2 linked regions of the Homo sapiens genome follow. The protein of the gene in region 1 interacts with the protein of each later gene in a biochemical or structural test. Each region holds a gene or a part of one and is shown on either strand. Other genes may lie near its edges. The genes, in order: IFNAR1 and FBXW11.

Region 1 (4,422 bases):
TAGATGTACTGATTGATATGTCTCCCTAAAATGTATAAAAGCAAGCTGGACCTTGACCACCTTGGGCACATGTGGCCAGGACCTCTTGAGGCTGTGTCATGAATGCATCCTTAACCTTGGCAAAATAAACTTTCTAAGTTGATTTCAGACCGGTCTCAGATATTTTTGGGCTCACAGTTAACTGAAAGATACTGATAATTAGGCCCTTAACATACAAGTGGACAATCAGGAATTTAAATTGTTTGGCCTTTGGGAAAACAGTCTAGTCTGGTTAAGCCCCAAGGCTATTAGTCCAGACTCAGGATTTGACTTCCCACTCCTCCACGGACTGGCCTATACAGCCTCAGGCAAGTTACTTGATCTCTCCGTTGCTCAGTTTCCTTGTCTGTTAACTAAGCATAACAGTATCTACACTGCTCTGAAAGCTTAATGAGTTTATACCTTTAAAACACTTAGATTACTGCCTGGCACACAGCTAAGAGCTTAAGAAATGATAAATGCCTATAAATTATATCTTGCCACCTGTCCGCTAACCTAATTTTAAATTAATTTCTTAATGCACACCCTCCTGGAATGTCAATTTTATATGAAAATTCTGGGAAAGCTTTTTTCACATCAAACCAAACATGAGTTTAATGCAAGTTTTTCATAAACAAAAGACTTCAAAGAAATTACTATGGGATGCACCAGGACCCTAGTACCCACATCCTAGGAAAAGTATACTACATATTTGTGGAAAAGTTTGAGAAATAGGATATCATGTACCACACAGGTATATGGTTTCCTAAGCCAACAGGTAAAGTATTTTGAACTCACTTGCAGGCTCACAGACCACCTGGACTCCTGCACTGGGATGCTAGCCCTGATTCTCTTTGGGTACCCCTCCTCACTACAAAATTACCTCTCACTCTCTATCAACCTTGTAATAGTTGCCATTCCCCCATGCATCCCAAGTAAGTATGAAGAATTTCAGCAAATTAGCCTGGTGACGCCCTGCCTTTGTATTTTTCTTTTATTATTTTTGTAAAAGAAAAAAAAAAATCTCAGGACCTCTCCCAACTTTCTTACGCAAAAGGGAAGTTAGTTAAGCCCAGAGGCCAAGTGACTGCAACACCCTCTTCCAAACGAATGGCTGTTACTAGCATTATGCTTCAGCCAAATCCCCAAGGAAGGATAAAAAGACTCAGCCATCTGCGAAGGGCTACCCTGACAGATCATTCATAAGTCAATTCTTTGCTGGTCTCCCATAAACAAGGGGATGCCAACTGTAACTTCAGGTCTACAACCTAAGTCTAGTTCCTAAAACTAAAGTCTAAAACATAAATAGATCGGGCGTGGTGGCTCACACCTGTAATCCCAGCACTTTGGGAGGCTGAAGTGGATTGTTTGAGGTCAGGAGTTCGAGACCAGCCTGGCCAACATGGCAAAACCCCATCTCTACTAGAAATACAAAAAATAGCCGGATGTGGTGGCGTGCACCTGTAATTCCAGCTACTCAAGAGGCTGAGGCAGGAGAATCGCCTGAACCTGGGAGGCAGAGGTTGCAGTGAGCTGAGATCACGCCTCTGCACACCAGCCTGGGCAACAGGCTGTCTCAAAAAAAAAAAAAAAAAAGTATAAATAAAAATGTCTTCCCATATTTTGGACAGTTTTCTTAGTCTTGGGTCCTAGAATTGCATTTACTAGTTTAAAAAGTATGACTATTTTTATGACTTCTGAAAGACTGAGCAACATTACAATCTCATTGAGATAACATTTCATTGAGTTTTGAACATGATTATTTCTTTGGGAAAAAAGTAGGTAGTTAAGTAAACCAAAAATAAAATTCTAAGCCCCCCAACAATGTGAATGGACCTCTCCTCTCAACAAATGGCATTCCAAAGTTAATCTGAAAAACTAGTTCAGGCCTTCCACACTGACCATGTCAATTACAAGCTTATCTTCTCAGGTGCAAAACAAAGTCAAGACTCCATCTACCCAGAGGCATCTGCATAACTGACTCCCTTTACTCTCTTTTTCTCTTCAAGACACTCATGGTATCTTAAAATACAGATTTCTTGGGCACTAACTAAATTCTCACAGAACTATTTGCCTTACTGCCTTCCTGCCCCACCTCCTGAAAACCTCTGGAAAACCAGTCACAGACGTGTTTGTGGCTCACGTTTTTCCCGGATGCGCCCTGAAGCAGGCTTAGTAAACCTCGAGAACTGACAATTATGCTTCAGTCACTCCGACTGTCATTTTTTATTGGCCTGTATGAATCCTGAGGGCAGAGAAATCCTGGCCACACTTAGCTCACTCCCCCGTGGGACTGGGCGCCTATTCACCAGATTGAGGAAATGCATTTCGGGAAATGTTTTGTTTATTATCAAACAGACCAGCGGAGCCGCGGTACTTTCCCGGAAAGAATCAAACTCGACACAAAGCTCTGGCACCGCCATTTCACGGGGGTGGGACCCGGGCGCTCCCGAGGACCCGTACACGGCCACAGGCAAGCGGCAAGAGAGGACCCAGAACACCACTTTCTCCTGGTTGATTTGCGAGCCCAGGTCGGGTTTAATCTTTGGCGCGGCAAAGTGGACCGAAGGTTTCCCAGACTGGGCGTCTGTCGCCCCCAACAGCATCGCCGCCCCCGTAGCCCAGCTGCGTGCCCTACCTCCCGCCCTGCGCCAAGACTCTCCTCCCCGCCTCTCACCTGCGGCTGCGGACAACACCCATGGCGCCACGGCGACGAGCACTAGGGTCGTCGCGCCCAGGAGGACGACCATCATCTGGGAGCCGCCGCAGATCCCACCAGTTACATGTTCGCGCACGCGCAGCTCCTCTCAGCCGCCATCGCCCCGTCCTAAGTCACACCGCCCCTCTGCACACGCGCTGCCCCTCTTAGCTCTCACCGCCCCTCTACGCACGCGCCGCCTCTTCTGACACACACACCGCCCCTCCGCGCACGCGCCGTTCCTCCACGCACGCGCCTTTCCTCCTAGCTAGCACCCCTTCTCCAAGCTCCCATTGCCCCATCCTAATTGCAGCACCCCTGTGCGCGCGCGCCTTAGAAATCGCAGGCCTCCTGCATTCTCTTCTTCCTCACTCTTTCCGGCCTATGGCCGGTCTGGAGCACTTCACCATCGCATTCCAGGACGACTCCCCCTCACAGGAGGCCTTGACCTTCACAGGATCGCGGCACACACCTGCGCAGACCCAGCGACTTTGGAGTTCCCGCGTCTCTTCCCCATGTCTGCAGTCGGAGGGCGCGGGTGGGCTCCTGGTCGCGGCCCGGCGCTCTTCGTCCTCGCCCTTCTCCGCCCGGGGCGCTTGCTGACCCTAGAGTCTTGGACAGTGGCGTTGGGAGTCCCCAGCGGCCTGGGAACCAGATGAGGCTGGAAGGAGGAAGTGGCTGAGCGACCAGACCGTTGCTGTGTGCAGAGCGAGAGCGGGGCAGAGGCGGTCGAGCGCTCGTTTTCCGGGCGACTTGGCTGAGGGGCGAGATGGTCCCTTGGAGAGAACAGCCACGGGCCCTGGGCCGAGGGGCTCCAAACAGCAGTCGCTAGGCTGTTTTGGTCGTCGGGCTTTATCAGTAAACAATTCGAGCCCATGGTTCGAATGATTATTTAATTAAATTCCTCAGTAATAGATCCAGTGCATTGTGAAAATATGCGAAATAAAATTTAAATGATGAGATAAAATAAGGAATCAAATACTTCGTTGTTATAACAACCAAGCAATTAATTAGCAATTACATAATTAAATGAATGTTTGTAAAGAACAATGCAATGGAATATATATGTATTCCATCTATATATTCCATCTCTATATTCCATCTATATATTCCATCTCTATATCCCATCACTATATTCCATCTCTATATCCCATCTCTATATTCCATCTCTATATCCCATCTCTATATTCCATCTCTATATCCCATCTCTATATCCCATCTCTATATTCCATCTCTATATTCCATATCTATTCCATCTCTATATTCCATATCTATTCCATCTCTATATTCCATATCTATTCCATCTCTATATCCCATCTCTATATTCCATCACTATATCCCATCTCTATATCCCATCTCTATATCCCATCTCTATATCCCATCTCTATATCCCATCTCTATATCCCATCTCTATATTCCATCTCTATATTCCATCTCTATTCCATCTCTATATTCCATATCTATTCCATCTCTATATTCCATATCTATTCCATCTCTATATTCCATCTCTATATTCCATCTCTATATGCCATCTCTATATGCCATATATATTCCATCTCTATATGCCATATATATTCCATCTCTATATGCCATATATATTCCATCTCTATATTCCATCTCTATATGCCATCTCTATATGCCATCTCTATATGCCATCTCTATATGCCATCTCTATATGCCATCTCTATATGCCATCTCTATATGCC
Region 2 (3,816 bases), on another chromosome or scaffold:
AATCATTCGAGCCCAGGAGTTCAAGACCAGTCTGGGCAACATGGTGAGACCCTGTCTCTACAAAAAAGAAATTAGCTGAGCATAGTGACATGTGCCTGTGGTCCCAGCTACCTGAGAGGCTAAGGCAGGAAGATCGTGTGAGGCCAAGAGGTCAAGGCTGCAGTAAGCCATGTTTGTGCCACTGCAGTCCAGCCTGGGCGACCTGATGTCTCAAAGATAATAATAACTGCACTTCTTACAGTAAAACAAAGTTTTTACCAGGAATTCAGACACATAGACCTTCACTGATCCACACTCAAACATGGCCAAACATGACACTACGCACAAACGTCTAATATTTCTCCCTTTCCCTATTAATGGACAAAATAAATAAGGGAAAATATTTTTCAAAATTTCTTTCAGCGAGTTGAGTTCCACAAAACAAAACAATACAGGGTAATTGCTTACCTGGAAAATATTTTGTACTTCAGATCCACCAATCCAGAATGAATGGGGGTTTTCCCTTTCAGACTAGTCTGAGAAAAGACAGCAGTCAAGCATCTTCCAAGATTCTTTCCGTTTACTGTATCCAGCTTTCTTCAACAAAATCCCAAACATGCACTTCGGTAACTGTTGAAAGACAGAAAGCAATCCATACACCCACCATGGCACCAGCGGCAAAGGACAGCCTCCAAGAAATGGAAGGAAGGGTCAATGGAATGGTGGATCTGAGGCACAGGAAAAAAGTTATAACCCCTGAGTCAGCTATTTGGCATAAAATGCCTGCAGCAGCATTCCTCACCTCTGTGTTGAAAGGATACAAAACTCGTAACAAATAATGGAACATCCCTAATGTTAATATTTACTCATGATAAACAGCATGCAACTTCCAAATGAGAGCAGCTAAAAAATACCTACCCTATCATCCATATAAATTGTCCTAGACCATTCAGCTACACTGAACTTCCTTATCCATTTTCTAAGACAGCTCCTCCACCATTAGAAAAATAGTTTGTCAGCCAAAAAGAATGATACGAGAGGGCTCAAATATCTACCATAAAGATATTTATTTACGTACCTAACAAAATGTTTTGGTTTGCTACATATAAGACATCATATCTACATATTACCCAAATCCTCTACCCTTAGCTAAAATATAGTGTGCTTCAAAACATATAACTGAAGACTGAACTTCTGACTCAGTAAAGGCCAGTCCCGTACAATGGCCAATGATCACGTAAACTGGGAAAAATCATAAAGAACGCTAATATACAATTTACTAGGTGACACCATTAAATATTAAGTCCTGTCCATATTATATCAATATTCTTTTTCTACCATATCAAATTAGACTGCAAATTCTAAACAAACTAAAAGGGAAAGAGAAAAAGCATTCAGCAGAACAACAAAGATAAAAACAAAAAGACTGAACTTACTCGAACATAAATTTGCTACTTCCACAATTGCTACATTATAGCCAAAATGCTCCTGCAGTAATTATAGTAATACCTACCTTATTGAAAAGCTACTAACTGGCCAAGCCCTTTACATTAATTACCCATATTTAATTCTCAAAAAAAGATGAGCAGAAAGAAGTAACCTATCCAAAGTCCCACATCTACTAGGTAGTAGAGCCCATGCCCTTTTCATGGAGCACTATGGACTCCACAGTTCAAGGGTCAGAAAGCCCATGATTTCTGAGAGAGGAGAAGAAATCAAGCTTTACTCTCAAAGGTCCTAAATTAATTAACATCAAAATGGAGAACAATGAAAATACAGAAGAGTAAATATTTCAGCCTACATGAATCAGTTGGGCCATCCTGAAAGGGTAATTCCCTAGATCTTGCCACTTAAAAAAGCATTTAATTAACAAAGAGCCATGCAATTCTACAGCCCATGATATTTTTTTCTTGTCTTTTTTTTTTTTTTTTTAAGTAGAGACAGGGTTTCACCATGTTGCCCAGGCTGGCCTCGAACTCCTAAGCTCAAGCGATCTGCCTACCTTGGCCTCCCAAAGGGCTGGGATTACAGGTGTGAGCCCCCATGCCCAGCCTAAAGCCCACAATATTAATGCTAAAACAAAACACATTATAGGCTGGGCTCGATGGCTCACACCTGTAGTCCCAACATTTTGGGAGGCCGAGGCGGGCAGATCACTTGAGGTCAGGAGTGTGAGGCCAGCCTGACCAACATGGTGAAACCCCATCTCTACTAAAAGTACAAAAATTAACCGGGCCTGGTGGCACATGCCTACAATCCCAGCTACTCGGGAGGCTGAGGAAGGAGAATCACTTGAACCCGGGAGACAGAGGCTGCAGTGAGCTGAGATCGTGCCACTGTACTCCAGCCTGGTTAACAGAGCAAGACTCCGTCTCAAAAAAAAAAAAAAAAAAAAGACTGTGGCAAGACATACTATAATGGTACTCAAGTAGTCTTTGTGTTTAGCAGCAAAGATTGTAACTGTGACAAAGAATCTCAAATCCAGCTGAACCCAAGTAATTTTTAAATTCTAAGATTTGTTGACAGTCCACAGGCAATGACTCTTAAAGATGTTCTGATTGTTCATATTGTAGGTAAGGCAATTAAAGTGACTGAAATACCGGTCTATGATTAACCTCGCCATAACAATCAGATGAAAATACCTTAAGACTCACAACTTTAAGGAGATCACAAAAGTAAAATCCCAAGCAAATAATGAGTTCTCAAGTTTTTCCCATTAAGTGGTATTACTCCTAAGCCTAAGAATAAACTGGAAACCCAATTTTGACAGAAGTAGCTAGGGAACTATGGCTAGTAGCGAACTGCTAAAACAGTATACTATGCTTTTCAAGGTACGACTATCCAAAATGCAAAACAAGTTATAGCAAAACACAACCACAGCAATTTGACTAACAGACTCATTTCTGGACCTCTTGAATCCTCAGGCTTTTCCCCTGTACTAGTGAGTTAATTTTTCTCCCTTCCCTTCAAAAAAAAAAAATATATATATATATACACACACATATATATTTCTTCAATCCCTAATTGTATATATATATTTCTTCAATCCCTAATTGCTGGCAGGCCTTATGCTAGTAATACAAAGATTAACAGATGCCAGGTGAGTAGTGTCAGGACTGAGTTCTTCCTGCCCCTCTGCCCCCTTTCTCTTTGAATCTATCATGTAGTCATTTCAGAGGGCCAAAATATATTTTATTGTTAGTTACCAAAACTGGTTCAATGTTCTCCAGTTAACTCCTAAAAAAATAAACATTAAAAATTACTCAAGTTCCTTTTTCACAATAGTAGAACCTCAGTCTTTCTTTTTCTTCTGTGGATCAGAGGCTTTTTACTATACAATGGTTTCCTACATTCAATATGCTTATATTTACACACCTCTCTATCACAAGCCAAAGAGCCAAAGCTTTTTTTTTTATTTTTCCTATTAATGTCCCAGTGTTTATACTTCACAGCTTTCCATTTTGTGAAGCTCTTCATTGTTAACTCAACCTGAGAGGGAATTTCCTAAAAACGCTTCCCGCTGACATCACAGAACTCTTCCATCTTTTAGTTTCATTAAAACACTAAGAACCAGGTAAGAGATACCCTACTGGATTGTCAGGTCTTCCTGGTCTGTCTCTCATTTGCCTACAAAGACAAACTTCCTCTTAAGCAATTGCGATCAGCAGAAACTAACCAAGGGTAACGAGCACATTCTTAACCAACACGTTTCTTCCCCCATTGTCATCTAATTCAATGAACAATACAACTCAGAAGAAAATCTTGTATGAATTCTCACTGCTTATTCTGTTAAGGTTAAAACCATCAGCTTTGATGATGGTAAGAATAAGAATTCAA

The links.
Region 2: the proteins of IFNAR1 (region 1) and FBXW11 form a complex in vitro, tested with the Homo sapiens proteins (one study listed by BioGRID and IntAct).

The regions. Positions count from the first base shown.
Region 1 is NC_000021.9:33,323,405-33,327,826, reverse strand, and holds the start of IFNAR1 (interferon alpha/beta receptor 1 isoform 2 precursor), read right to left. Parts: upstream 2,858-4,422; 5' UTR 2,772-2,857; coding exon 2,696-2,771; intron 1-2,695. UniProt on the Homo sapiens protein: Together with IFNAR2, forms the heterodimeric receptor for type I interferons (including interferons alpha, beta, epsilon, omega and kappa).
Region 2 is NC_000005.10:171,996,443-172,000,258, forward strand, and holds part of FBXW11 (F-box/WD repeat-containing protein 11), read right to left. Parts: intron 610-3,816; exon of another isoform or gene 448-609; intron 1-447.